Linked DNA regions of Homo sapiens: region 1 is reported to be linked to region 2. The links are microRNA targets in miRTarBase. Many come from high-throughput screens and were not tested one by one. Region 2 holds a microRNA gene; the other region holds the end of a gene's coding sequence.
The links. The annotated mature microRNA hsa-miR-5587-3p reads GCCCCGGGCAGUGUGAUCAUC and lies in region 2 at 3,338-3,358, shown strand. An mRNA with a match to its seed (bases 2 to 7 or 8) in the 3' UTR can be bound and repressed. Matches are read on the target gene's strand: a 7mer-m8 pairs with bases 2 to 8, a 7mer-A1 pairs with bases 2 to 7 and ends in A, and an 8mer does both.

Region 1 (5,311 bases), not on the chromosome of region 2:
CCACTCCTTACCCTTTCCTCCCTGCAGTGGTGGGCTAGAGAGGACTCGAACCTCCCCCAGGAAACGTCCTTCCACCTTCCCCTTCTGTCGAATGTCCCAGATGCAGCCGAAATCAAAGCCCTGCAGACCCCGCCGGGCGCCACCTGTCCCAGGTTTACCCGCAATGGCTCTGCCGGATCTCTGTGGTGACACGCGCCCGCGGAGCTGGGGTTTTCGGTCCTTGTGCCGCCCTGTTTCCCACGACCCCCCCCGCGCCCCTGTTCCCACCCCCCTGTTTCCACCCCCCTCACCCCGGGGACCTGGGAGTGCCTCGAGGGCGGAATAGAGTCCTAGACATCTTCCTAGAACGTCGACGCAATATCCTAGGTATTGAGATTGATCATCTTATTTAACTTTTAAAGCCAAAATGATTGATACACGAATGTTTACTATATAAACATTCACTGAGTTGCATCCTTAACTATTTGCATGTTTTACTGTAGGCAAAAAAAAAAAAAAGAGGTGCTACAAGCATACCCATTTTATAGAGGAAGAAACTGAGGTTCAGGGCACTTCTAACTTATTCAAAGTTTCCACTGCTGGTTGTGGTGCTGCTGAGAATAGAATAGACTCAGTCTGACTTCAGAGTTCATCCTCTTAACTCCTCAAGATCAGGCTTTGCAGGAAAAAGTACTAGCCATCTAAAACCTATCCCACTTCTTCCCTCAGTGGTGCCAACCCACCCTGAGCTTATTGGGTGGGGAGGGGTTACACACTCATCCAAGGGAACCCAGGAGGGTTGAACCTGAAGTGACCTCTGAAATCATATGGTTCACCCTTCTCTCTACCATAGATCTCAAAAACCACAGCCCAGAGGAACAACTTACTTGGCCTGTCCCAAGTCTCATGGGTCATTAGAAGGCCTGCCTGGATTTTGATTCCTCCTGACTCACAGGACAATTTAATGAAGCAGCAGTTTGTCCTGTCAGGGGGAACTTTTACCCTGGAGAGGGAGCCCAAGGAAGAGGTACCTGCGTTGGTCAAGGGTTTTCAACCTCTGATGGAGGAACCCCAGCAAGGAGCAGTAGGGAAATCCTCCAGTGAAGTGGTGGGAGCTATTTATACCTGGAGACTGCAGGCTCCGGAGCAGGGTAGGGAGCGGGCTGGTCTAGGCTGGCTTCAAGTATCTCAAGACACGCAAACTTGCGGAAGCCAATCCACAGAACCAGTTCTGTTTCCTCTGTGAGGATCACAAGCCACTTTTCCAGAACAAGAGGGAATGCAGAGTGAAGGAAGACCAACGCAGGGCAAGAGGAAGCCCAGCAAGGAAAGTGGGGGTGTGGTGCTGGGAGCACTGAGAGGCCAAGGCCCAGCAGGATAAGGGACTGCATTGGAGGCAAAGTAGTTGCTTACTTAGGAAACCCCCAGTGGAGCAAGGGCAGCTATTCCTAGAGACTTCAGTTCCAAGAGCGAAGGTGCTGGGGGAGTGAGCTCTCACAGGGTGCTTGCCCAGATCTTGCTGACTTTCCATTCCCTGCACCTAATGAATGTAGGGGAAGTCGAATTGGGTCCCAGACGCGGGTCCTGGGTTTCTTACACATCCTAGTGTTCCCCAGGCCCCAAATTTTGTGCCCTGGGGTCAAGGTCTTCACCAAGGTCTTAGCCTCCCTCCTATTCTAGGTATTGAGCTGTAGGACGAGGTGCAACATTGTGGGCAGGGATGTCCTTAGGCAGCATTAGGGGGTACAGAAGAGGTGGGACCTTCGGCTGGGTTGGAGATGGGTTGCCAAGTGTCCTGAACTAGGCCCAGGGAAGGCAAGATTCCAGTTCCACATTTCCCTCGAAGCTAGCAGCCAAGGCCACAGCTCAACAGCACCCAGGCAATTCAGGCAGCCATGAAGCACCAGGGAAGAGGTGCTGACAGAGCCCAGAGGGCATCCCACAACCCTCCTGGCCCCATGAGCTCCTACTGTGGTACCTGTCCCAGAGGGAAAAGATGCCAACCTGGCCCTCCACAACCTCCTGTGGAGAGAGAGAGACAAATAAATCTTTGCATGACACCATGTTATGATATTGGAAAGTACCTAAGACTCTGGTGGCACAAATGTGAGAGTGATTACCTCTACTTAGGTGGTTCAGGAAAGAAGCTTGGCCTTGAAGGAGAGGCAAAAGTTCACCAGAAAAATGGGGGTGGAAGGGCATTCCAGATGGACGGGAGGGCATGTGCTGAGGCATGGAGGCTGAGATAGCAAAGCACTGTTGGAATGACTTCGTTTTGTCATTCAGGCATTGACTTAAATGTAATCTCAACAGGCTTTCCCGACCGCCTACTTGAAAAGACCTCCGTTCCCAGCGTTTGGTTCTATTTCCTTTTTAGAATTCATCTTCTGTTTTTGCATTTGTTTATTGTCTCACCCTCCCTCCACCCACACCTTCACACCTGAAAATAAAATCCACCAATCTAGGGACACTTTTTTTTTCACCGTTCCCAGCAACTCAACAGTACAAGTGAATACATAGTAGGTGCTCAGTATACCTAGTTGAATGGATGAATGAATGAATGAAAGTCTGCAGCCGCAGGCTGTGAGAAGCAAGTAACAAGCCAAGAATTTCCTCTCCAGCCCTTGGCCTAAGCAATCCATGGAAAGGTAACGGCTCCAGAAGAGGGAGCGCGGTAGGGAAGGGGATTCGGGCATCACGGTGGTGGGAGGCTGTGTCCCAGTTCGGGGGCGACGTGAAAGAGGAGGGACCCGGCCGCGAGTTGCTGCGGGACCAGCAGTCTGGTGCACTGGCTCACGCTCGGCTCTGGGGTCTTTCTGCCGCCTGAGAGGCAAGGGGAGGGAAGGTCTTCGCTCCCCAAGTGCCGCTTCTCTAGCCTCCCGCTAGGCCCTTTCGGATGTGTCCAAGTCGCATCCTGGGCGGTCAGAGGGCTTCGGAGGGCTCCCTTGCCTGCCTGCCTCCCTCCCTCCCTTCCCTCCTTCTTTTTCTTCCTCCTCCTCGGGTCTCTACAGCTCCCCAGCCGGGCGGCCCCGCCACAGCCTAGCAGCCCCACCCCCTCCTGTAAGGGAGAAATTGCTAAACTTGTAGCAATAATGACCCAGCATTCAGGCCGCCGACTCCCGCTGAACGTCTCAGCGCCCCGGCCGGCCCGGCCTAATCAGCGCGCCCCTCCCTGCTGCCCGCCCAGCCCCCGTCCCCCTGCCGCCCCCTCCCCCAGAGCACAAAAAGTGGGGAACAAAACCCCCGCACATTTCTCCGTCCCTCTGTTGAGCAGACTGCTGCACAAAGCCCCCGCTCTGAGAAGCAATGGGGAGCTCGGGGGGGACGTCAATCCGACGCGCTGGGGTTTTTGTTCGCGCAGGGGACCTCGCCTTCCTACCACACCTTTTGTTCGGGACTCCAATAAAAAGCCATTCTTTCCGCACCTTCCCGGCCCGGAGCCGCCTTTCAGCGAGGCCCGGCCCCACAATGGCGCGGCGCTCTGAGGCCTCCCCATTCACCCGCCTTGGCACGCTCACAATCGGCCGTGTGGCAGCACAGGCCTCGCACAGGCATTCTCCGCAAGTGACAAGGAGCCGCATAAAGCCGCGGCCGCCGGGGGAGAAGGGAGGGCGGCCAAGGGGGAGAGCTCGGCCGCAGTGGGGCGCAGCGCAGCGCCCCCGGGCGCGTTGGTAGCCCTGGCTGCAGCCAGGGAAGGAGCCGCCTTCGCGCGGCCAACAGCTGGGACTGCGAGCGAGGCTTCCTTTTCCCTGGCGACCCTCGAGGTGGGGCAGAGTGCAAGACTTGACCGAACGCAGGTCTATACAGCTAGTCCAAGCATCTGGGTAAAACTTAGGGGGAACTGCAAAGCCAGGGACTTCAAATGGCCCTGAGCCTTCGACCTGTCCAGCCCTCAAGAGTAAACAGAAATTAATGAACAAAGCCCCGAAGAGATCAGACTTGCAGCCTGGGGCCTGGCTCATGGGAGACCAGGCCTGCGATCGCCCAGGGAGGATGGCTTTCCCCCTCGCACCTTTTCCTCCCCTTCCCGCCCTATTTAAAGGATTCCTCTCCACTCTTTGGGGCTAAACAAATTCTGTAGCCGGCCAACGATTTGAAAATATTGCACCTTGTTTATTGACTCCTGTAGTGTGTGGCAGCGGGTGTCTACACGGCGTGTGGTTATAGTTATATAGATAGATAGATAGATAACATGTGCTGAATACAGAATACGAAACAGAAAGGAAACCCGGTAACACCTCCGGTGGGCCACCAGGTCCTGAGTTTGTTCAGCCTCCCCCCACCCCCAACTTTTGATCTCATTCGGCTGGTTTTCCTCGAAGAGTCCTGCGTCCCCCGACAATCCGGAGATCTGGACCGAGGTATCTGCTGCGGAGGGGAGACAGCTGCGAAACGAAATCGACTGTGCTATGGCGCTCCAGGCCCGCAAAGGGGGCAGAGGATCGGTAGGGCCTGGAATTTCTCAAGCCACGACCCCCATTTTTCTCTCCTTCATGCTTTTAATTTGTTATGTCCTTGGGCTCCCCGCCAACGCTTCGCGGAGGCCGCGGAAAGGCAGAGGGAGAGAAGCCCTTCTCGCTTTGGAAGAACCAAGCGCGGCCAGGGTCCTAGCCTCCTGGTCTCCTCTCGCTGCCAGGGTCGGGGCCATCGTCCTCCCCGGCGCCCAGCCGGCGTTTCTGCCTCAGAGACAGTCCTGGCGACCGGACCCAGTCATCCTCCTCGCCCCTGAGTCCCCTTCCCCAGGCCTCGAGTGAGCTGCGATCCGAAGCCCTGAGGAGCTAGACGTACATATTTTTTTAACGAGGGGACCTGACCTTTAGGTCAGGCCCTTCTCGAGCTTCAGTCCCGCGGCGCCAGGCTGCGCTGGGGTGCCCGCCGCGTGACCCGCCCCGTCCCTACCAGGCCCGGATGCCCTGCAAGGTGCCCTGAGCGCACGCGGCCCCGGCTGCAGTACCCTGGTGCAACGGCTGTGCGCTGCCGCCGCTGCCGAAGCCTCCTAGGTTGCTCACGTTCACAAAGGGGCCGCCTCCGGCCGCGCTGCAGGCGGGCTGCATGGCAGTGGTCGCCGCGGAGGTCCCGCCGCCGCCGCCGCCGCCGCCCGCCGGGTACGCACAGCCATAGCTGCTGCTGTAGGCCGCCGCTGCTGCGGCGGCGGCGGCGGCGGCGGCGGCGGCCGCGGCCGAGTTCCCATAGCCGTAGGCGGGGAAGCTGTTGTAGGAGTAGGCGCTGGCGCCCACGCTGTAGGGCGCGCCGTAGGCCTGCGCGCTGGGCGTGACGCACGGCTTGCCGTCCCGCACCAGCACCGGGACAGCCACGCGGCGCGGCGGCGGCG
Region 2 (7,668 bases):
AGGTGGGTTGCCTGAGGTCAGGAGTTCGAGACCAGCCTGACCAAAATGGCGAAACCCCATCTCTACTAAAAATAAAAAAATTAGCTGGGTGTGGTGGTGTGTGCCTGTAATCCCAGATACTCAGGAGGCTGAGACTGTAGAATTGCTTGAACCTGGGAGGCGGAGGTTGCAGTTAGCCGGGATGGCACCACTGCACTCCAGCCTAGGCGACAGAGCTATACTCCGTCTCAAAAAAAAAAAAAAGAAAAAAAAGTAGAATTCGGTTGGGCTCAGTGGCTCATGCGTGTAATCCTAGCACTTTGGAAGGCCAAGGTGGGTGAATCACATGAGGTCAGGAGGTAGAGACCAGCATGGCCAACGTGACGAAACCCCCATCTCTACTAAAAATACAAAAATTAGCTGGGCGTGGTGGTGTGTGCCTGTAATCCCAGATGTTTGGGAGGCTGAGACACTAGAATTGCTTGAACCCGGGAGGCAGAGGTTGCAGTGAGTCGAGATGGCACCACTGCACTCCAGCCTAGGTGACAGAGTGATACCCTGTCTCAAAAAAAAAAAAAAAGCCAGCCGCTGTGGCTCACGCCTGTAATCCCAGCACTTTGGGAGGTCAAGGCGGGTGGATCACCTGAGGTCAGGAGATTGAGACCATCCTGGCTAACACGGTGAAACTCCATCTCTGCTAAAAATACAAAAAAATTAGCCGGGCCTGGTGGCAGGCGCCTGTAGTCCCAGCTACTCGGGAGGCTGAGGCAGGAGAATGGCGTGAACCCAGGAGGTGGAGCTTGCAGTGAGCCGAGATCACACCACTGCACTCCAGCCTGGGCAACAGAGCGAGACTCTGTCAGAGAAAAAAAAAAAAAAAACAGGTGATGCCTGTGCCACTGGACACACCTGCACACCATCCTCATGCTGATCACAAAAGAGGGTGAGGGGCCGGGCATGGTGGCTCATGCCTGGAATCCCAGCACTGGGGGAGGCCGAGGCGGGTGGATCACCTGAGGTCTGGAGTTCGAGACCAGCCTGACCAACATGGTGAAACCTCGTCTTTACTAAAAATACAAAAATTAGCTGGGCACGGTGGCGGGCGCCTGTAATCCGAGCTACTTGGGAGGCTGAGGCAGGAGAATAGCTTGAACCTGGGAGGCGGAGGCTGCAGTGAGCTGAGATTGCACCACTGCACCCCAGCCTGGGTGACAGAGCGAGGCTCTATCTCAAAAAATAAAATAAAAAATTTAAAACCAACAAAAAAGAGGGTGATGGCTGAGTGAGGAGTCCATGGTGGGCCCTACACAGGGCCCAGGAAGGACAGGGCGGGAAGCGTGAGCATCCTGCCCACCGCAGTGGGTCCGCCATGGAGAGCATGACCTTAGAGAAGCAAAGCCGCCTGGCTCGAAGCAGTGGCCGCCCTGCTGACAGCTGTAGTGGCCGGGTGGCACTCGGGCTGGGGTCCGGGGGAGTCTAGGTGGCCACCTGGCTGTGTGCCTGTGCCTGCCCAAGCTGGGCACCTTTCCCTGGCAGTGCCTGGGAAGCTCGGCCGCCCTCCCTGGCTGGTGCTGCTCTGCAGCCCCGCTCATGGACTCTTGCCCACGGCCTGCTCCTTGTAGCAGGGTCGGGCCGTGGGAGGTCCGGACAGGATCTTGAATGGCCCTGTCTGCGGTCCTGGCTGGCCGGAGGTTGACCGCACTGGACAGGTCAAGGGCCTTAAACCAGGGTAGTGAGGAGCCTGCTGAGCCCCTGCTGCTCCCCGGGCTGCCTTTGGCGCTCGGACAGACACCCAAGGACAGAAGCTCGGACAGCTTCTAAGGCGAAGGGTCTCCCGGGGCTGATTTCCCGGGACTCTGGCTCCTGCAGAGAGGGCTGGAGGCGGGGCTCTGTGTTCCAGGGTCAGAGTCCTCCTGGTGGAAGCTGAGGTGCCTGATTAAATGCCTCCCTTTCTAGGCAGCAGCCCAGACGCGGCACAGAGAGGGCCTGGGAGCTTGCTGCAGCTTCAGGTGAGTTTGTTCCCAAGCCCTGCGGCTCGTTTATGGGTTTGCTTGCGCTGCAGAACTGTTTGTGGAGCAGCAGGGTTGGAGTGCCCACGGCTGGGGGGCCTCTCGGAGCCCTTGATTCACAGAACCCCTGGAGGCCGGCAGCCCTGCCTGCCCTGAAGAGCCTCGTTCTCCCAGCCGTTTGGGCCGTGGTCCTGTCGTGGGAGGCGACGGTGAGGGCGGCCCGGGGTCCCGACAGGGGTGTTTGTCCCTTTGGGGACCTCCCCTGTGCTGTGGCCCCGGCCCCCAGATGGAGCTCCCCATCCCCACGGCAGCGCTGGGGCTGGGGCTGGTGAGGAGCCTGTGCACGGCCCCCACCGCTATCCTCAGCCAGGAGGGTGCCTGGTCCCTGGGGAGCGGCCTGCACCTGTTTCTGGAGAATGCTGTCCTGCCAGTTGTCATTTGGGGCGGGCGGTCGGAGTCCACGTCCTCCCCCAGGGCGGGGCCCTGGCCTTGTTTCTTGTAGGGACGATGGGAAGCCCTGTCCTCAGCCCTCCCACCCGACTCATGCAGGAGCTTCCTGTCCTTGGGGTCATCTCCTCCACAGGGGCCTTAGCGTCAGTGGGGACAAAGGCAGAGTTGCCTGTCTTCAGGTTGTGGGCACCGACTGAGCTTCGTCCCGGTAGTGGCTGGCTCTTGTTTCCTGCCTGGACCAGCAGCCTCTGGTCTGGTGGGTGCAGTTTTAGGGCGCAGTGGGGTTGCCGTGGGGCAAGGCCAGGCCACCAGCTGCCTGGACACAGGGGCCCCCGCTTTCCATCTGCTGCCCCCCACACCCCCAGCTCGGGCAGGGGTGACACCGGGGCATCCTTGTTGGGGTCGCTGTGGTTCCCATGGTGGCAAGATGGCTCTGTGAAAGATTGACGGAGATGTAGGGCCCAGGAGCAGGTGCTGTGTGAGTGGGACACGCCTGTGTCACCTGCGGGGCAGGGGAGGGCTCGGGGGTACAGCCGTGTACATGATTAGTTAGCGAGACAGTGAGGAGTGTATGCGGAGTGGACACAGCTGTGGGTGCCGCCCGCGCAAGGCTGGGGGTCGCTGTGCCAGCCCTGCTCCCATGTGGGCTCCCAGCTCCCCAGGTAGGGACGCTGACCCCGGGAGGTGCCTTTGCCTGCATCCACTGGAGCCTCAGGAGCATGCGTTCCGTCCCCACGGGTCACCCCCACTGAGCCCACCACCTACCGAGAGGCACCTCGAGACCCTGTCCTGCCACGGGTGGGCTGTCAAGGCCAGCACCAGAGACCCCCAGCAGACCTCAGTGGCCGCAGATGGAGCGGGGCGGCAATGGTCACCTCCGGGACTCAGCCCTGTGCTGAGCCCCGGGCAGTGTGATCATCCTGGCCCTTCTCGTGCACGTCCCCTGGCTGGATGCTCCTTGCTGCCCTCACGGGGTGTGTGTGTGGCATACAGGACAGGGACCGGCCAGTTGGCCCTGCTCATTAACCACTTGTCCCCACAGGGCAGTGGCGGCCTCACCTCTGCAATTCTCTGAGGCTGGATCTAGGCCACCGCCCCGTTTAAAACTAGGGCATCGGCTCCCAGGGAGGGCGGGGAGCTGCACAGTTGGACTTGTGGGGGTCAGGCATGGATCCACACAGCCCGGGGCCCTCCGCACCCTGCCCCTCCAGGGAGCCCAGAGGCGGGCGTGGCTGCAGCCTGGCTCTGTGGCAGTCATGAGTCACGGCCACTCTTGAGGCGCCGCCCTGAGAGTCAGCCCTGTGGTCACGGCTCCTGCTGGTTCCCATTCGCGAGCACCTGAAACAGCCTGGCCCACAGCAGAGGCCCGGGGGGCACATGCAGCTCACGGGAGCAGCACAGATGCTTGGCCGGCGGCAGGCCCTACAGGAGCAGCAGCGGCCCAGGGCATGTCCCTGGGGTCAGGGGTCAGAGTTCGGCATGCTCTGCGGGGGCCTCACCCTGCTGTCCCTCGGCCTGGCCTGGGCACACTCCTTGGTGACAGTGCCCCTGCACGCCCCCCCCCCCCCCCGGTTATTCAGACAGGGAGCCAGGATGGGAACCACGGACTGACCTGACCTGCGTCCTCGGGGCCACTGCACTGGGTGATTCACGTGTGCCCAGGCCCTGAGGTGGGCCGGACCTGGGAGTGGCAGGTGAGCGTTCCTCCCAAGAGCCTCTGGCTGGCCGCAGCAGGCCCTGTCCCTGCTGTCCTCAGTGGCCCTGGACATGATAACCCCCCTGCCGAGGTCTGGCCGGAGCCAGCACCCACGGCCGAGATGCAGTCAGCCCTGGCTGGGCGCTGTCCCTGGGGGTGGCTGCTGGTGCTGCCCTCCCTCCTTCCCACCACTTCTTGCTCCTCTTTCCTGGGGCCCTCCCATCGGAGTCTTCCTCCTAAATGCAGTTCCCTCCCTCTAGGGGAACGCGGGCTGGGAGCCTATTTTTTTTTTTTTTGAGACGGAGTCTCGCTCTGTCGCCCCGGCTGGAGTGCAGTGGCGCGGTCTCGGCTCACTGCAACCTCCGCCTCCCGGATTCAGGCCATTCTCCTGCCTCAGCCTCCCAAGTAGCTGGGATTACAGGCGCCCGCCACCACGCCCAGCTAATTTTTTGTGTGTTTTTAGTAGAAACAGGGTTTCTCCATCTTGCGCAGGCTAGTCTTGAACTCCTGACCTCGTGATCCACCCACCTCGGCCTCCCACAGTGCTGGGATTACAGGCGTGAGCCACTGCACCTGGCCTGGGAGCCTTTTCCGTAGCTGCTCATCCTGTACTAGCATCTGTCCATCATGAGTGGACGGAACACAGGGGGACCCAGGACCCACAGCTGCACTCGGGAAGGCCAGCAGGGTGGATTTCGGGAAGAGCATCGGTGCCAGTTTCCCACAGTCACCCTTGCGATGGGACCCTCAGGTTGGCACGTGGCTGGCAGCTGTGTCCCGGGAGCTCTTGCTCCTTAGTGGGCCTCGCCAGCCAGGGCAGGGCCCCCGGCACCCCTCACGGGGCTCTTGACTCCTCTGGCAGCGGATCGGGGCGGTTCAGCGATACCATCTCTGGAGATCCCCTGGCGTGTGCTGGAAAAACCCCGGAGAGGGCTTAACAGAGCCAGCTGTCCAGCCTCTGTGACAGGGACGTTTGCTTTTCTCTGCAGGGTCCTCTCTTCTCTTCCGAGCACCCACGGGAGGGGACTGTGCTGTCCCTGCTCTCCTAGGACAGGCCTCCCTCCTGTCCAGATGGGGCCCACAGGGTCAGTTGCCTGAGACTGGCTCCAGCTCAAGAAAGGTTTTCTGAGTGAGCGCAGGGGAGCAGGAGGCTGGTGAGCAGCTCGCTTCCTGCCCTGGGTGCAGCTGGGCACCACTTCTGCCTTGGGCCTAAAGGCATCAGTGAGGAGCAGGCGGGGCCTGGTAGGAGCCTGTGTTTCTAGCGGCACGCGTGACCCCAGGTGCCACGTGGGTGAGTGCGTGGGTGGGTGAGTGGCGAAGGAGCTGAGGTTGGCCCTGGCAGGTGTGCAGTCCTCACACAGAACGGGCAGGGCTCCTGTCAGAGCCAAACCAGCTCAGGGCCCAGTGCAAGCAGCTTCTGTCCCGTGGCACCTCCGCTAGTCGCCGCTCCCACCCAAGCCCTGCCCCGCCCTGACCCGCTCAGGGTTTGGCTACAGAAGGGGAGTGTCGGAAATGCCCAACCCGTCTCCCGTGAGGGACTCCTGCGTGGCCTGGGCTGGGGAACGCAGGGGCCGTTTGGGTGGTTCCGGCGTCTGGCGTAGCCACGCGAGAGGCCCTGGGTTGATGCGTGGGCTCCCTGCTAGCGAGCCTGCTCCGTGCGTGCTGGGCTCCCGGCCTTGCTTCCGTGTGGCATTCGAGACCCCGTGGACCTCGCCTGCGTCCTGCATGTTTGAGCGCTGCCCCTTGTGGAGGCCGCCAGCACTGGTGGCTGCAGGGCCTGTAGTGTGGCACGTCCAGAGACCCGGCCTGGAGAACGGGTCCTGGATGTCTCCGTCATGTTTTACGTTCGCTTCACACGGACGCAGCGATGTCTCAGATACCTCGGATCACACAGAGCACGTCGCCAAGGCTTGTTTTGTCTGTTCCTTTCCACCTGTCTTACGTGGATACCAGGAGATCCGCCACGACTCCCGTGGCCCCGTCCACACTGCGCGGCGCTCTCCGGCGTGGCCGCCAGGTGCCCCTTCGAGGGCAGGTGTGAGTACAGGGTGGTCCCTGTGGAGAAGCGCCTGCAGGCGAGTGAGCCAGGCTGTGCCCTGCTGACCCCGAGGCCTGAATTTCATGGAACTCCCACCTCTCACAGAGTATTGTTTTTTTTTTTGATTTTTTTCCAACCATTTAAAAATGTAAAAGCCATTGTTGACTTGCGGGCTGGACCAGGCTTAGGGCTGGGCTCTGGTCCGCACCCCACACTGGCCCCGTGTGTCCTGTGACCGTTCTGCCTACGGGGCAGGCCTGAGCCACCACAGGATGGCAGGGTCTCCAGGGTGCAGGGCCCGCAATGCTTCAACCCTCCCACGACCCCAGCACCTTCAGAGAAAACGGACCCTCGTGCCGAGTGAAGTGGTTCAGGCGAACGTTATCACCACACGGGGGACTCGGCGGCTTCTGCCCCAGGCCTCAAAGGAGAGGGGATCCAGAATTCTCTGTCTCACCCCCTCAGCCCCTGCCCTTGAAGCTTCTGTCCCCAAGGCTGTGGGGAGGAACCAGGGAAGGGCTGGCGCGTCTGCTGTGCGATCCCAGGTGCTCGTGCCTCGCTGAGCTCAGCCCCTGTGGCCTCAGAGCTGCAGGCCCCTCCCGGGTGTCAGAGCACTGACTGGAAAGGCCCCCCACATCCCTGCCCTCTGCTGCTCCCCATCGTCGCGGGGGAGAAGCTGGAACTGCACCCCCACCCCCCCCAGCCCGCTCACCTAGGGCTGCCCCCAGGCCTCCCTGAGCTCCAAAGGATATGTTCTTTGGTGCTTTTTTTTTTTTTGGCTCTGTCTCCCAGGCTGGAATGCAGCTGTGGTGCTCACGCCATCCTCCCACGTCAGCCTCCTGAGTAGCTAGGTCTACAGGTGCACACCACCACACCCGGATAGTGTTTAGTTTTCTATAAAGACAGGGTCTCACTGTGTTGCCCAGGCTGGTCTCAAACTCTTGGGCTCAGGTGATCCCCCACGCACGGCAGCTTTGACACTTACTTGACCCTTTCCTCCTAAGCTCTACCCTGACGCTGGCTGTGTGTCCCAGAGACTTAATCAGAAGCTGGAAGAAGGGCTGTGACGTGTGTGACAGCAGGAACTGCTGGTCAACCCACAGCCGGCCAGCCTGCCGGGACGCCATCTTGGCCCCAATCTTGGCAGGGAGAGGGGAGTGTATCGGACTCTGGGGAGAGCAGCTGCCTGCACGGGCAGGGTCCTCCCGTCTCAGGATTAACGTTCTCAACTGTATTTGATTTCTCCTCAGCCAGAGGGGGTAAGGTGGCCTTCCCAGAAGCACAGGTGGGCCGCGTGTCAGAGGCCCTGGACAGCCTGTGCCTCTCCCAGGCCTCCCAGCAGGGGTGGCTCTCGCCCCTCTGGAGGGGAGACCCCAGGAACCGGCCCCCGCCCTCAGCCATAGCCTCACAGGGTCCTTGTTTCTCGGGGCCTGGCTCTGTGGGTGCACAAGGCATGGTCGGGCTCCCGTCCTTCTGGAAGTCTCCAGAGTGGCATG

Region 1: miRTarBase lists NKX2-3 as a target of hsa-miR-5587-3p. Seed matches in the 3' UTR shown: 7mer-A1 at 4,633-4,639.

The regions. Positions count from the first base shown.
Region 1 is chr10:99,535,285-99,540,595 of GRCh38, reverse strand. It overlaps NKX2-3 (NK2 homeobox 3), which reads right to left. Exons shown (of 2, transcript NM_145285.3): 2 at 4,072-5,311. The coding sequence ends at 4,875. Among named protein-coding and RNA genes, the nearest start is that of NKX2-3, 5.0 kb to the right of the region's middle. RefSeq lists an enhancer at 1-444 and silencers at 3,487-3,566, 5,142-5,291.
Region 2 is chr16:532,011-539,678 of GRCh38, forward strand. It overlaps MIR5587 (microRNA 5587), which reads left to right and starts at 3,306; the gene lies at 3,306-3,358. It overlaps CAPN15 (calpain 15), which reads left to right. Exons shown (of 14, transcript NM_005632.3): 2 at 1,936-1,988; 3 at 4,019-4,132.